3 separate regions of the Homo sapiens genome follow, and all the other regions are linked to region 2. Evidence: fine-mapped expression QTL. A gene starts in region 2. Each other region holds a variant in brackets. All regions are shown on one strand. Distances are from middle to middle.

What was found. PIP is the estimated chance that this variant, and not a neighbour inherited with it, causes the effect.
Region 1: its variant is the best candidate, but not a certain one, in a credible set for the expression of SLC12A9 in anterior cingulate cortex (GTEx, PIP 0.51).
Region 3: its variant is the best candidate, but not a certain one, in a credible set for the expression of SLC12A9 in aorta (GTEx, PIP 0.80).

The regions. Positions count from the first base shown.
Region 1 is chr7:100,923,834-100,927,911 of GRCh38, reverse strand. No RefSeq gene overlaps it. Among named protein-coding and RNA genes, the nearest start is that of MUC3A, 24 kb to the left of the region's middle. RefSeq lists an enhancer at 1-431. The variant G/A (reference allele first, on the strand shown) is at 2,291.
Region 2 is chr7:100,851,178-100,855,255 of GRCh38, reverse strand. It overlaps SLC12A9 (solute carrier family 12 member 9), which reads right to left and starts at 2,543. Exons shown (of 14, transcript NM_020246.4): 1 at 2,421-2,543; 2 at 878-1,100; 3 at 502-636. The coding sequence starts at 1,058. SLC12A9-AS1 (SLC12A9 antisense RNA 1) reads left to right here and starts at 2,642. Exons shown (of 2, transcript NR_146550.1): 1 at 2,642-2,742. RefSeq lists a silencer at 2,307-2,616 and enhancers at 2,907-3,056, 3,127-3,326.
Region 3 is chr7:100,741,612-100,745,689 of GRCh38, reverse strand. All of the region lies in intron 7 of ZAN (zonadhesin), which reads right to left. Among named protein-coding and RNA genes, the nearest start is that of ZAN, 10 kb to the right of the region's middle. RefSeq lists an enhancer at 365-414. The variant C/T (reference allele first, on the strand shown) is at 1,952.

The sequences.
Region 1 (4,078 bases), 73 kb before region 2:
TCAGTGAAGAGAGAGTCAGTGAAGGGAGAGCGGGGTTTTATAAGATTTGGGTAGGTAAAGGAAAATTACAGTCCAAGGGGGGTTGTTCTCTGGTGGGCAGGGGTGGGGGTCACAAGGTGCTCAGTGGGGGAGCTTTTGAGCCAGGATGAGCCAGGAAAAGGAATTTCAGAAGGTAATGTTATTAGTTAAGGCAGGAACAGGCCATTTTCACTTCTTTTGTCATTCTTCAGTTACCTCAGGCCATCTGGATTTATACGTGCAGGTCACAGGGGATATGATGGCTTAGCTTGGGCTCAGAGGCCTGATTTTCCTGTCTTCTTATATTAATAAGAAAAATAAAATGAAATGGGGTAAAGTGTTGGGGCGGCGAAAATTTTGGGGGGTGGTATGGAGAGATAATGGGTGATGTTTCTCAGGGCTGCTTCGAGCGGGATTAGGGGCGGCGTGGGAACCTAGAGTGGGAGAGATTAAGCTGAAGGAAGATTTTGTGGTAAGGGGTGATATCGTGGGGTTGCTAGAAGAAACATTTGTCGTGTAGAATTACTGGTGATGGCCTGGATATGGTTTTGTATGAATTGAAAAACTAAATGGAATAAGAGAAGGAGAAAAACAGGTATCAAAGGACTAAGAATTGGGAGGACCTAGGACATCTAATTAGAGTGCCTAAGGAGGTTCAGCACAGCCTTGCCAGCAAAGATTATTTATTTACTTTAAGAGTTAAGAGAGGCGGTTTGGGGATAGCACCAGGAGATACCAGCTGTGATGGCTTGGAGAAACAGTGTAAACTGGCAGTGTAAACAAGAGCAGGGCATTTATGAGTAGTTGAGAACAGTGAATAGGAGTATCACTAGACAGAAGATAGTAGGAATGACAAGTTTTTGGGGGCACAGTCTAAGTTGGTCTGGTGTCTGGAATAAGACTGGGGCCTAATAAAAAGGAGTGTCTATACAGGAGCTTAACTGGGCTGTACCTTGTAGCATTGTGAGGACAGGCCTGAATTCTGAGAAGGGCAAGTGGTAAAAGTATTGTCCAGTCCTTTTTAAGTTGGTGGCTGAGCTTGGTAAGGTGTGTTTTTAAAAGACCATTAGTTCACTGAATACTAAGAGCCTGAGAAACTGCTTGGGTGATTTGACTAATAAAGGCCAGTCCATTATAGGACTAGAGGTGGGAAGGCCAAACCGAGGAATTTTGTCTAAGAGAAGGGAAGAAATGACCGTGGTGGCCTTCTTAGACCCTGTGGGAAAGGCCTTTACCTATCCAGTGAAAGTGTCTACCTAGACCAAGAGGTATTTTAGTTTCCTGACTCGGGGCATGTTGAATAAAGCCAATTTGCCAGTCCTGGGTGGGGGCAAATCCCTGAGCTTGATGTGTAGGGAAGGGAGGGGGCCTGAATAATCCCTGAGTAGTAGAATAGCAGATGGAACACCGAGAAGTTATTTCCTTGAGGATAGATTTCCATGATGGAAAGGAAAGGAGAGGTTCTAAGAGGTGGGATAGTGGCTTGTTCTATAGCATAGCCTGCCTTTACTGGTGTGTGGTGATTAGGCCTGGTGGAACTGCCATCAATAAACCAAGTGTGATCAGGGTGAGGAACAGGAAAGAAGGAAATATGGGGAAATAGGGTGAATGTCAGGTGGATCAGAGAGACACAGTCATGGAGGTCAGGTGTGGTATCAGGAATAAGGTGGGAGGCCAGATTGAAGTCCGGGCCAGGAACAATGGTAATTGTGGGAGACTCAACAAAGAGTACAGCTGAAGGAGCCAGGGAGTAAAAAGTATATGTGTCAGGTGTGAGGAAGAAAATAGATTTTGGAAGTTATGAGAACTGTAGAGAGTGAGTTGAGCATAGTTTGTGATTTTAAGGGCCTCTAAAAGTATTAGGGTGGTGGCGGCCGCCGCACGCAGACTTGAGGGCTAGGCAAAACAGTAAGGTCAAGTTGTTTGGATAAAAAGGCTACAGGGCGCAGTGTGGGTTCTCGTGTAAGAATTCCAACTGCACAGCCCTGCACTTCGGCTGTGGGTAATGAAAAGGGTTGGGATGAGTCAGGGAGAGCTAGGGTGGGGGCAGTCTCTAAAGCTGTCTTCAAGGAATGGAAAGAGGAGTGGGGAAAGGATTTAGGATCTATGGGGTCAGCTAGGTTTCCTTTTGTGAGTTTATATAATGGTTTTGTTAGGATGGCAAAATCAGGTACCTAAAGTCAAAAGTATCTAACCATGACTAGGAAGGAAAGGGGTTGTTGTTTTGTAGAAGGTGCTGGGGTTTGAGAGATCAGTTGGAAACGATCAGCAG[G/A]GAGAGCATGTGTGTTTTTATGAGAATTATGCTGAGATAGGTAACAGATGAAGAAGAAATTTGGGTTCAACTGAAGGAATGGGGGCTGTCTGTGAAGCCTTGAGGCAGTACAGCCCGGGTAATTTGCTGAGCCTGATGGGTGTCAGTCAGGCCAAGTGAAAGCGAAGAGAGGCTGGGATGAAGGGTGCAAAGGAATAGTAAAGAAGGCATGTTTGAGATCCAGAACAGAATATTGGGTTGTGGAGGGAGGTATTGAGGATAGGAGAATATATGGGTTTGGCACCGTGGGGTGGATAGGCAAAATAATTTGGTTGACAAGGCGCAGATCCCAAACTAACCTGTAAGTTTTGTCTGGTTTTAGAACAGGTAAAATGGGGGAATTGTAAGGGAAGTTTATAGGCTTTAAAAGGCCATGCTGTAGCAGGCGAGTGATAACAGACTTTAATCCTTTTAAAGCGTGCTGTGGGATGGGATATTGGCATTGAGCGGGGTAAGGGTGATTAGGTTTTAATGGGATGGTAAGGGGTGCATGATCGGTCACCAAGGAGGGAGTAGAGGTATCTTATACTTGTGGGTTAAGGTGGGGGGATATGAGAGGAGGATGCAAAGGAGGCTTTGAACTGGGGAAAAGGGCAGCAATGAGGTGTGGCTGTAGTCCAGGAACAGTCAGGGAAGCAGATAATTTAGTTAAAATGTCTCAGCCTAATAAGGGAACTGGGCAGGTGGGGATAACTAAAAAAGAGTGCATAAAAGAATGTTGTATAAGTCGGCACCAGAGTTGGAGAGTTTTAAGAGGTTTAGAAGCCTGGCTGTCAATACTCACAACAGTTATGGAGGCAAGGGAAACAGGCCCTTGAAAAGAAGGTGATGTGGAGTGGGTAGCCTCCGAATTGAGTAAGGGGACGGACTTACCCTCCACTGTGAGACTTACCTAGAGCGTCTGTGATGGTCCTGTAGGCTTCCAAGGCGATCGGGCAGTGTCAGTCTTCAGCCACTAAGCTGAGAAGATCTGGGAAGGAGTCAGAGAGCCTTGGGCCAGAGTTCCAGGGGCTCTGGAAGTGGCTGCCAGGTGAGTTGAACAGTCCAATTTTCAGTGGGGTTCCACACAGATGGGACACAGCTTAGGAGGAATCCTGGACTGTGGGCATTCCTTGGCTCAGTGGCCAGATTTCTGGCACTTGTAGCAAGCTCCTGGGGGAGGAGGTTCTGGAGGAATCCCTGGCAGCTGCGGTTCAGGCATTTGGAGTTTTCATGTGCTGGAGATGTGGCTGGGGTTTGTCTCACAATGGAGGCAAGGAATTGCAACTCAGAAATACATTGCTACTTGGCTGCCTCTACTCTATTATTGTACACCTTGAAGGTGAGGTTAATTAAGTCCTGTTGTGGGGTTTGAGGGCCAGAATTTAATTTTTGGAGTTTTATTTAATGTCAGGAGTGGATTGGATAATAAAATGTATATTGAGAATAAGATGACCTTTTGACCTTTTAGGGTCTAGGGCTGTAAAGTGTCTCGGTTGCTGCCGAACAAGCCATGAACTGGGTTGGGTTTTTCATATTTGATGAAAGAGCCTAAATGCTAACTGATTTGGGAGAGTTCAGATAAAGAAAAAGGAGCATTAACCTTGACTATGCCTTTAGCTCCAGCCACCTTTTTAAGAGGAAATTGCTGGGCAGGTTGGGGAGGGCTAGTCGTGGAATAAAACTATAAGCCAGACTGGGTGTGAGGAGGGGAGGTGATAAAAGGATTATAGGGTGGGGGAGCAGAGGCTGAGGAAGAATTAGGACCTG
Region 2 (4,078 bases):
GGCTACTCAGGAGGCTGAGATAGGAGGATCACTTGAGCCCAGGAAGTCGAGATCACAGTGAGCTATGATGGCGCCACTGCACTGCAGCCTGGGAGTCAGAGTCTTGCTCTGTTGCCCAGGTTGGAGTGCAGTGATGCGATCTTGGCACGCTGCAACCTCCACCTCCCAGGTTCAAGCGATTCTCGTGCCTCAGCCTCCCGAGTAGCTGGAATCACAGGCGGGTGCCATCATGCCCAGCTAATTTTTGTAATTTTAGTGGAGTCGGGGTTTCACTATGTTGGCCAGGCTGGTCTTGAACTCCTGGCCTCAAGTGATCCACCCACCTCAGCCTCCCAAAGTGCTGGGATTACAGATGTGAGCCACCGCACCCAGCCTAAAAAAATTTTAAGAATGAAAAAAACACTTGTCTTGCCCCTGAGCCAACAAAGGTAATGGCCCCTTCCACACCCTCCCTAGCAGGCAGAACAGGCCAGACCCCAGTCCATCGATGTTGGAGGATACAGTAGGCTCCGCCCCCCTGCACGGCTCCATTGGTGGCGATGGCACAGACAGAGAGGACGGTGAGTGCCAGGATGAAGTAGGCAACCAGCAGCATGGCCAGGGCCTGCAGTAGCCCAGCATGACCCACCACGAACCCTGAGGCAGGAGCAGCAAATCAGGTCACAGGGGACTCACACCCCATATCCCCCACCCCCTGGTTCTGCAGAGCTCCAGGGTGGAGCTAAATGCAAGCCCACAGAGAGCCCCTCCCCAAACCCTTCAGCCAACCGCTTCTCTTGGGTCCCCTTCCTAATCTTATCCCAGTCCCATCTCCACCCCTCCCCATCATGTCCTCCCATACTATAGTCAGTCCACACCCGCCCCAGGACCCACTCACCAATCCTCAGAAAAACAACTATGCTGAACATGGACAGGACAGTGGGCACCACCACACCCAGGAAGGTGGACAGCTTCCGGGCAGACGCCCCTCCAGGACCCCCGGCCCCATTGGCAGGGAGGGCAACCCCCTCCTCCCCCAGGAGCCGGTAGGCCAGCAGAGGTGAGCTCTCGCTGGCCATGGCTGAGCACAGGTAGAGGAAGCCACAAATGGGTTAGGTGACCTGCAAAGGAGATTATGTTGCATCAAAAGCTCCCCCACAGAGCTCGCCCACCCCCAAAGACCACTAATCAAACACCCTGAAGCCTCCCCAAAAGACAGAGCTGCTCTCTACTAAAAATACAAAAATTGGCCAGGCTCGGTGGTTCATGCCTGTAATCCCAGCACTTTGGGAGGACGAGGCAGGTGGATCACCTGAGGTCAGGAGTTCGAGACCACCCTGGTCAACATGGTGAAACCCCGTCTCTACTAAAAATACAAAAAGTAGCTGGGCATGGTGGCTCATGCCTGTAGTCCCAGCTACTTGGGAGGCTGAGGCAGGAGAATCCCTTGAACCCAGGAGGCAGAGGTTGCAGTGAGCCGACATCACACCACTGCACTCCAGCCTGGGTGACAGAGTGAGACTCCGTCTCACAAGAAAAAAAAAAAAATTAGCCAAGCGTGAAGGTGCATGCCTGTAATCACAGCTACTTGGGAGGCTGAGACACGAGAATCGCTTGAGTCCTGGAGGCGTAGGGCTGCAGCGAGCCGAGATCATGCCACTGCACTCCAGCCTGGGTGACAGAGCGAGACCCTGTGTCAATAAAAAAAAAAAAAGAGACAACCGCAAGGAAACAGGAACGCACCCACACCCTGCTTACCGGCAACTCAAAAAAGTCCGTGGGCTGCAAATGGTACCAGCCACTGCCCCACAAAAAAGTGGTACCCCAAACCTGTCAGCAGGGGTTTCAAGGCCCCTCCCGGCTCCTGGGGGCCACCCCTTCCCTTATGTTCCTGAGACTAGGGATGGCACCGGTTCTGGAAAGGGGCAAAGGTTCTCTGACGGCACAGGCTTCTCCAGCCTCTCCTTCCTTAACTAGCAATGCAAGAGGAACCAAATCTCCCAAAAGGGAAGTAAGTTACGGGCAGGAGAGCCTTCCCCATCCTCTCCTTCGGTGTCCTGAGCTGCCCCTACCAAGCCCCCCAATGCAATCACCGCACCCACAGGTAACAAGAAACTTCCAACTCTTTCAAAACCCCACCCTCCGTCAATCCTCTCCCTCAACCCATCTCAAACCCCCTCCTCCTCGCCTTAGCCTCCCCGATTCCTCCCATCCACACGAGGCACCCCTCCCCACAAACTCTACCAACCCAAACACACCCTAGCGAAACAGAAACACAGACCGGCTCCCACCGAGCGACACAAGGTCCCCGGGTCCTCCTCCTCCCCCAATCCGGGCTCCTGCCCCTTTGCGCCCGTTGGGGTGCAAGGGAGCCAAGATATCCTTCTCCCCGGCCAGGTGCACCCCACAGCTCGGGGGCCGCGAGGCGCTCACTCACCCACCCGCAGGACGCAGCGCTCGGGGGCGATCCCCGCGAGCCGGGGGGCTCCGCTCGGGCGGAGAGTGCACGGGGGCCGGAAAAGACAGCTGCGGCTACCGGGATGCCAGGCCTGGAGCCTGTCCCCACCCCCACCAGCACGCGCGCGCTATTGGTCCCCGTCCTCGGCCCCGCCCCATGGCGCGCCCGGAGAAGCCCGACCCTCTCTGCTCTTCCCCAGCCTGCGCTGCTCCAGCTCCACGTGCGCCCGGGGATGCAATGCAGCCCTGCAGACAAGCGTCTCCGGCAGGACGTGGGCCGCGGGTCTCGGAGCCTCCTTCACTTAGGTACAAACAATCGTCGCCGCAGGGGCCGGACCCCAGTCCGAGCTCCGAGGTGCGGTGAGCAGCCACCCCACTAAAGGGGGCGTGTGAGGATGGCGGAAAGCGGCAGGGAGGTGGGCGGGGCTGCAACACCTGGGCCAGGTGCGTCACGGGAAATCCGGCCCACTTCGTTCAGGGACTTCTGGAGTTCTAGTCCTCCAACCTCTCAAAACCCTAGAACCTCCACCGGGTCCCAGCCTCGCCCCTCACCCGCTGCGGGGATCCTCCCTTCGCGCCCGATCCAGCTGCGCTCTTCGCTTCCGCCACCGGAGGGAGCCATTGGCCGCCGATCTGGGCCCAGGGTCGCTTTGCACCGTCTGATGCCCGCTTTCTTGCCTCCCTGCAGTGTTCTCACTTCCAGCAGAAATCCTAGAGCCTATGAACTCTACTGAGAGCTGAGACTCCTTCTTCACTCTTTACAGATCCCATGAACAGCAGTACCACCTGCCAACGCGTCCTCATATGTAAAATGGGCATAAACTCGAACCTCCCTCCTAAGGCTGTGAGTTCAGTGAGCATTTAATGGGCACTTTAGAACAACGCCTAAAGGTTTGATAAATTATCCCTTGCAAATAGCACTGCATTAAATTAGCCACTCTGTGAGGTAGGTACCGCTATTTCAATTTTTCAGATTAGGAAATTGGAGCTTGGAAAGTTTCAGATACATTTCCTTTTTTTTTTTTTTTTTTTTTTGATCCAGGAACTATTACACAGGCTGGAGTGCAGTGGCGCGATCTCGTGTCACTACAACCTCTGCATTTCCGGCTCAAGCATCCTCCTGCCTCAGCCTCCGCAGTGCCTGGAACTACACAGGCACACACCACGCCTGGCTAATTTTTAAATATTTTGTAGAGACCGGGTTTCGCCATGTTGCCCAGGCCTCTCTGGAACTCCTGAACTCAAGCATGCGCCTGCAGTCCCAGCTACTTAGGAGGCTGAGGCAGGAGGATCGCTTGAACCTGGGAGGCAGAGGTTGCAGTGAGCTGAGATCGCACCACTGCACTCCAGCCAGGGCAACAGAACGAGACTCTGTCTCAAAAAAAAAAAAAAAACTTTTTCAGGGTCAGTTAGTTATAAGCACTCCCTTGGCATACCCTGGCCTGTCCGTCACTGAACTCTGCTTCCATAAATCTCAACCTCCACCTTACCTTGTTAGTCTGTGGTTTTGCCTTGGACCTTGTCTTCATCAATGACTGCAGCCCCTCCTCTTCAGTTCACCTCTTCTACTGCGCTTATTAAAGAAAAAAATCTGACTCTTGTTAAAACAGTAAGTCAGACTTTATTCAGGACTATTTTGATT
Region 3 (4,078 bases), 110 kb after region 2:
GGTCTTGAACTCCTGGCCTCAAGCAATCCTCCCGCCTTGGCCTCCCAAAGTGCTGGGATTACAGGCTTGAGCCACTACACCCGATTGCCTCTTCCTTTTCTTTACCCGCTGGACATAACCTATTCACGCAAACTGGCGAGAGATACAGCGGCTCTGACACAGAGGAGCAAGAGGCAAACCCCCTCTCACCCAACACCACCTCGGCCCCCAGCTCAGACAGCCAATCAGCGTGGACCTCGCTAGGTGACGCAACTGGTAGCGAAAAAGAAAATGTAAGCGGCTGCCACTCGTGGGGAGCGCGCTCGCGTGCGTGCTCACGCCCGAGTCCAAGGGAGTCTTGCCTGGCGCGCGCTCACTCCTGCCGAAGGTGGGATCCTGAGCGGCGGCGAAGAGGCTGGAATGGCGGGAATGGGCGGGAGGAAGGAGAAGAAAGGAAACAACCGGGAAGGAAGAGGGAAGGGAAAGGAAAGGAAGTGGGAAAATGATGAAAGAGAAATCAAGGACACGGGCTGGCGCGGTGGCTCACGCCTGTAATCCCAGCACTTTGGGAGACCGAGGCGGGCGGATCACCTGAGGTCAGGGGTTCTAGACCAGCTTGGCCAACATGGCGAAATCCCGTCTCTACTAAAAGTACAAAAATTAGCCGGGCGTGGTGGCGGGCATCTGTAATCCCAGCTACTCGGGAGGCTGAGGCAGGAGAATCGCTTAAACCCGGGAGGCGGAGGTTGCAGTGAGCTGAGATCGCGTCACCGCACTCCAGCCTGGGCGACAGAGCGAGACTGTCTCAAAAAACAAACAAACAACAACAACAAAAAAAAAACCAAGGAGACCTATGAGAAACAGAAGAGGAGAAATGGGAGAAAAAGAAGTGAAAGGTGAAGAAAATATAAGGAAGCGAGCAAGATGGAAAAGGAAAGGGAAAGAAAGGAAAAATAAAAAGCCAACCAGCATTTACTGAAGCTGCTGGGCGCGGTACACGGTGCTAAATGCTGAGGGGTTGCAGAGAGGGCTGGTCGGCTTTCAGTGAAGGTGGGGCCAGGGCTTCTTAAGGCCTTATTTATTTATGTACGTATTTATTTATTTATTTTTATTGAGATGGAGTCTCACTCTGTTGCCCAGGCTGGAGTGCAGTGGCGCTATCTCGGCTCACTGCAACCTCCGCCTCCCAGGTTCAAACAATTCTCCTGCCTCAGCCTCCCGAGTGTTGGGATTACAGGTGCACACCACCAAGCCCAGCTAATTTTTTGTATTTTTAGTAGAGACGGGTTTCGCTATGTTGGCCAGGCTGGTCTCGGACTCCTGACCTCTGGTGATCCACCTGCCTCCGCCTCCCAAAGTGCTGGGATTACAGGCATGAGCCACCACGCCTGGCCAGGGCCCTTCTAGAAAACAAAGTTTAGGCAGCAGGAAAGATCAGAGACAGGAGTGCAGGAGTCCAAGTGGACACTGATGGAGTGGAGAGAGGAAAAGATGGGGAAAAACAGAAAAGAAAATACGGCAGAGGCAGGAGGATCACTTGAGGCCAGGAGTCCGAGACCAGCCTGGGCAACATAGCAAGACCCCATCTTTACAAATAAAGAAAATAAAATAAAGTGTGGAAATGGTAAAGTGGAAGGGAGGAAATGGATTGAGAAAGGATAAGTATTAAGGGAAAAGAAGAACAAAGAGATATAGGCTGGGCGTGGCAGCTCACACCTGTACTTCAAGCACTTTGGGAGGCCGAAGCAGGAAGATGGCTTGAGGCCCAGAGTTTGAGACCAGCCTGGGCAATGTAGCAAGACCCCATCTCTATTTTTATTTATTTATTTATTTTGAGACACAATCTCACTCTGTCGCCCAGGCTGGAGTGCAGTAGTGCGATCACAGCTCACTGCCACCTCCACCTCCCAGGCTCAATCAGTCCTCCCACGTCAGCCTCCCGAGTATCTGGGACTACAGGTGTGTGCCACCA[C/T]ACTGGGCTAATTTTTGTATTTTTTGTAGAGACAAGATCTCACTATATGTTCCAGGCTGGTCTTGAACTCGTGGCCTCAAGTGATCTGCCCACCTCGGCCTCCCAAAGTGCTGGGATTACAGGCATGAGCTACTGCACCTGGCCTAGTTTTTAAAAACATTTTTTTAAATTCAAAAATAAGAATTATAAACTCAGGAAATTAGGGAGCAGAACCCTCTATGCTTGACCTACAGTGCTTGGCTCAGTGAGGGGTTGAAATGTGGGCTGTGTGAGAAGATTAAGAGAGAAAGTGAATGTTGTGTGAGAGAGAAAAGGAAGAAGTCAACAGTAGAAAGAGAAAGAAGCTCAGCTGAGTGCACAGGGAGGTGGTGGAAAGAAGCTAGGGATAGACTTGGGTGCATAGAAAGAAAGAATATCAGCCAGGCATGGTGGCTTACGCTTGTAATCCCAGCATTTTGGGAGGCCAAGTGGGTGGATCACGAGGTCAGAAGATCGAGACCACCCTGACCAACATGGTGAAACCCCATCTCTACTAAAAATACAAAAAATTAACTGGGCATGGTGACGCACACCTGTAATCCCAGCTACTCGGGAGGCTGAGGCAGGAGAATCGCTTGAACCCGGAAGGCAGAGGTTGCAGTGAGCTGAGATCGTGCCATTGCACTCCAGCCTGGCAACAGCAAGATTCTGTCTCAAAAAAAAAAAAAGAAAGAAAAAGAAAGAGTGTCGCCTGGATTTTTGCAAAAGCCTCCTAAACAGCCTCTCTGCATCGACCCTTGCCTGTTCTCCTCAGTGGATTCTCAACACAAAAAAAATCCTTAAAAAATAAGTCAGATCGTCCCCGTCCCCCTCCCCCTCCCTCTCCCTCGTCTCCGTCTCCGTCTCCCTCTCCCCACGGTCTCCCTCTCATGCGGAGCCGAAGCTGGACTGTACTGCTGCCATCTCGGCTCACTGCAACCTCCCTGCCTGATTCTCCTGCCTCAGCCTGCCGAGTGCCTGCGATTGCAGGCACGCGCCGCCACGCCTGACTGGTTTTGGTGGAGACGGGGTTTCGCTGTGTTGGCCGGGCGGGTCTCCAGCCCCTAACCGCGAGTGATCCGCCAACCTCGGCCTCCCGAGGTGCCGGGATTGCAGACGGAGTCTCGTTCACTCAGTGCTCAATGGTGCCCAGGCTGGAGTGCAGTGGCGTGATCTCGGCTCACTACAACCTCCACCTCCCAGCCGCCTGCCTTGGCCTCCCAAAGTGCCGAGATTGCAGCCTCTGCCCGGCCGCCACCCCGTCTGGGAAGTGAGGAGTGTCTCTGCCTGGCCGCCCATCGTCTGGGATGTGAGGAGCCCCTCTGCCCGGCCGCCCAGTCTGGGAAGTGAGGAGCGTCTCCGCCCGGCCGCCATCCCATCTAGGAAGTGAGGAGCGCCTCTTCCCAGCCGCCATCACATCTAGGAAGTGAGGAGCGTCTCTGCCCGGCCGCCCATCGTCTGAGATGTGGGGAGCACCTCTGCCCCACCGCCCCATCTGGGATGTGAGGAGCGCTTCTGCCCGGCCGAGACCCCGTCTGGGAGGTGAGGAGCGTCTCTGCCCGGCCGCCCCGTCTGAGAAGTGAGGAGACCCTCTGCCTGGCAACCACCCCGTCTGAGAAGTGAGGAGCCCCTCCGCCCGGCAGCTGCCCCGTCTGAGAAGTGAGGAGCCTCTCCGCCCAGCAGCCACCCCATCTGGGAAGTGAGGAGCATCTCCGCCCGGCAGCCACCCCGTCCGGGAGGGAGGTGAGGGGGGGTCAGCCCCCCGCCCGGCCAGCCGCCCCATCCGGGAGGGAGGTGGGGGGTCAGCCCCCCGCCCGGCCAGCCGTGCCATCCGGGAGGGAGGTGGGGGGGTCAGCCCCCCGCCCGGCCAGCCGCCCGGTCCGGGAGGTGAGGGGCGCCTCTGCCCGGCCGCCCCTACTGGGAAGTGAGGAGCCCCTCTGCCCGGCCAGCCGCCCCGTCCGGGAGGGAGGTGGGGGGGTCAGCCCTCCGCCCGGCCAGCCGCCCCGTCTGGGAGGTGAGGGGCGCCTCTGCCCGGCCGCCCCTACTGGGAAGAGAGGAGCCCCTCTGCCCGGCCAGCCGCCCCGTCCGGGAGGGAGGTGGGGGGGTCGG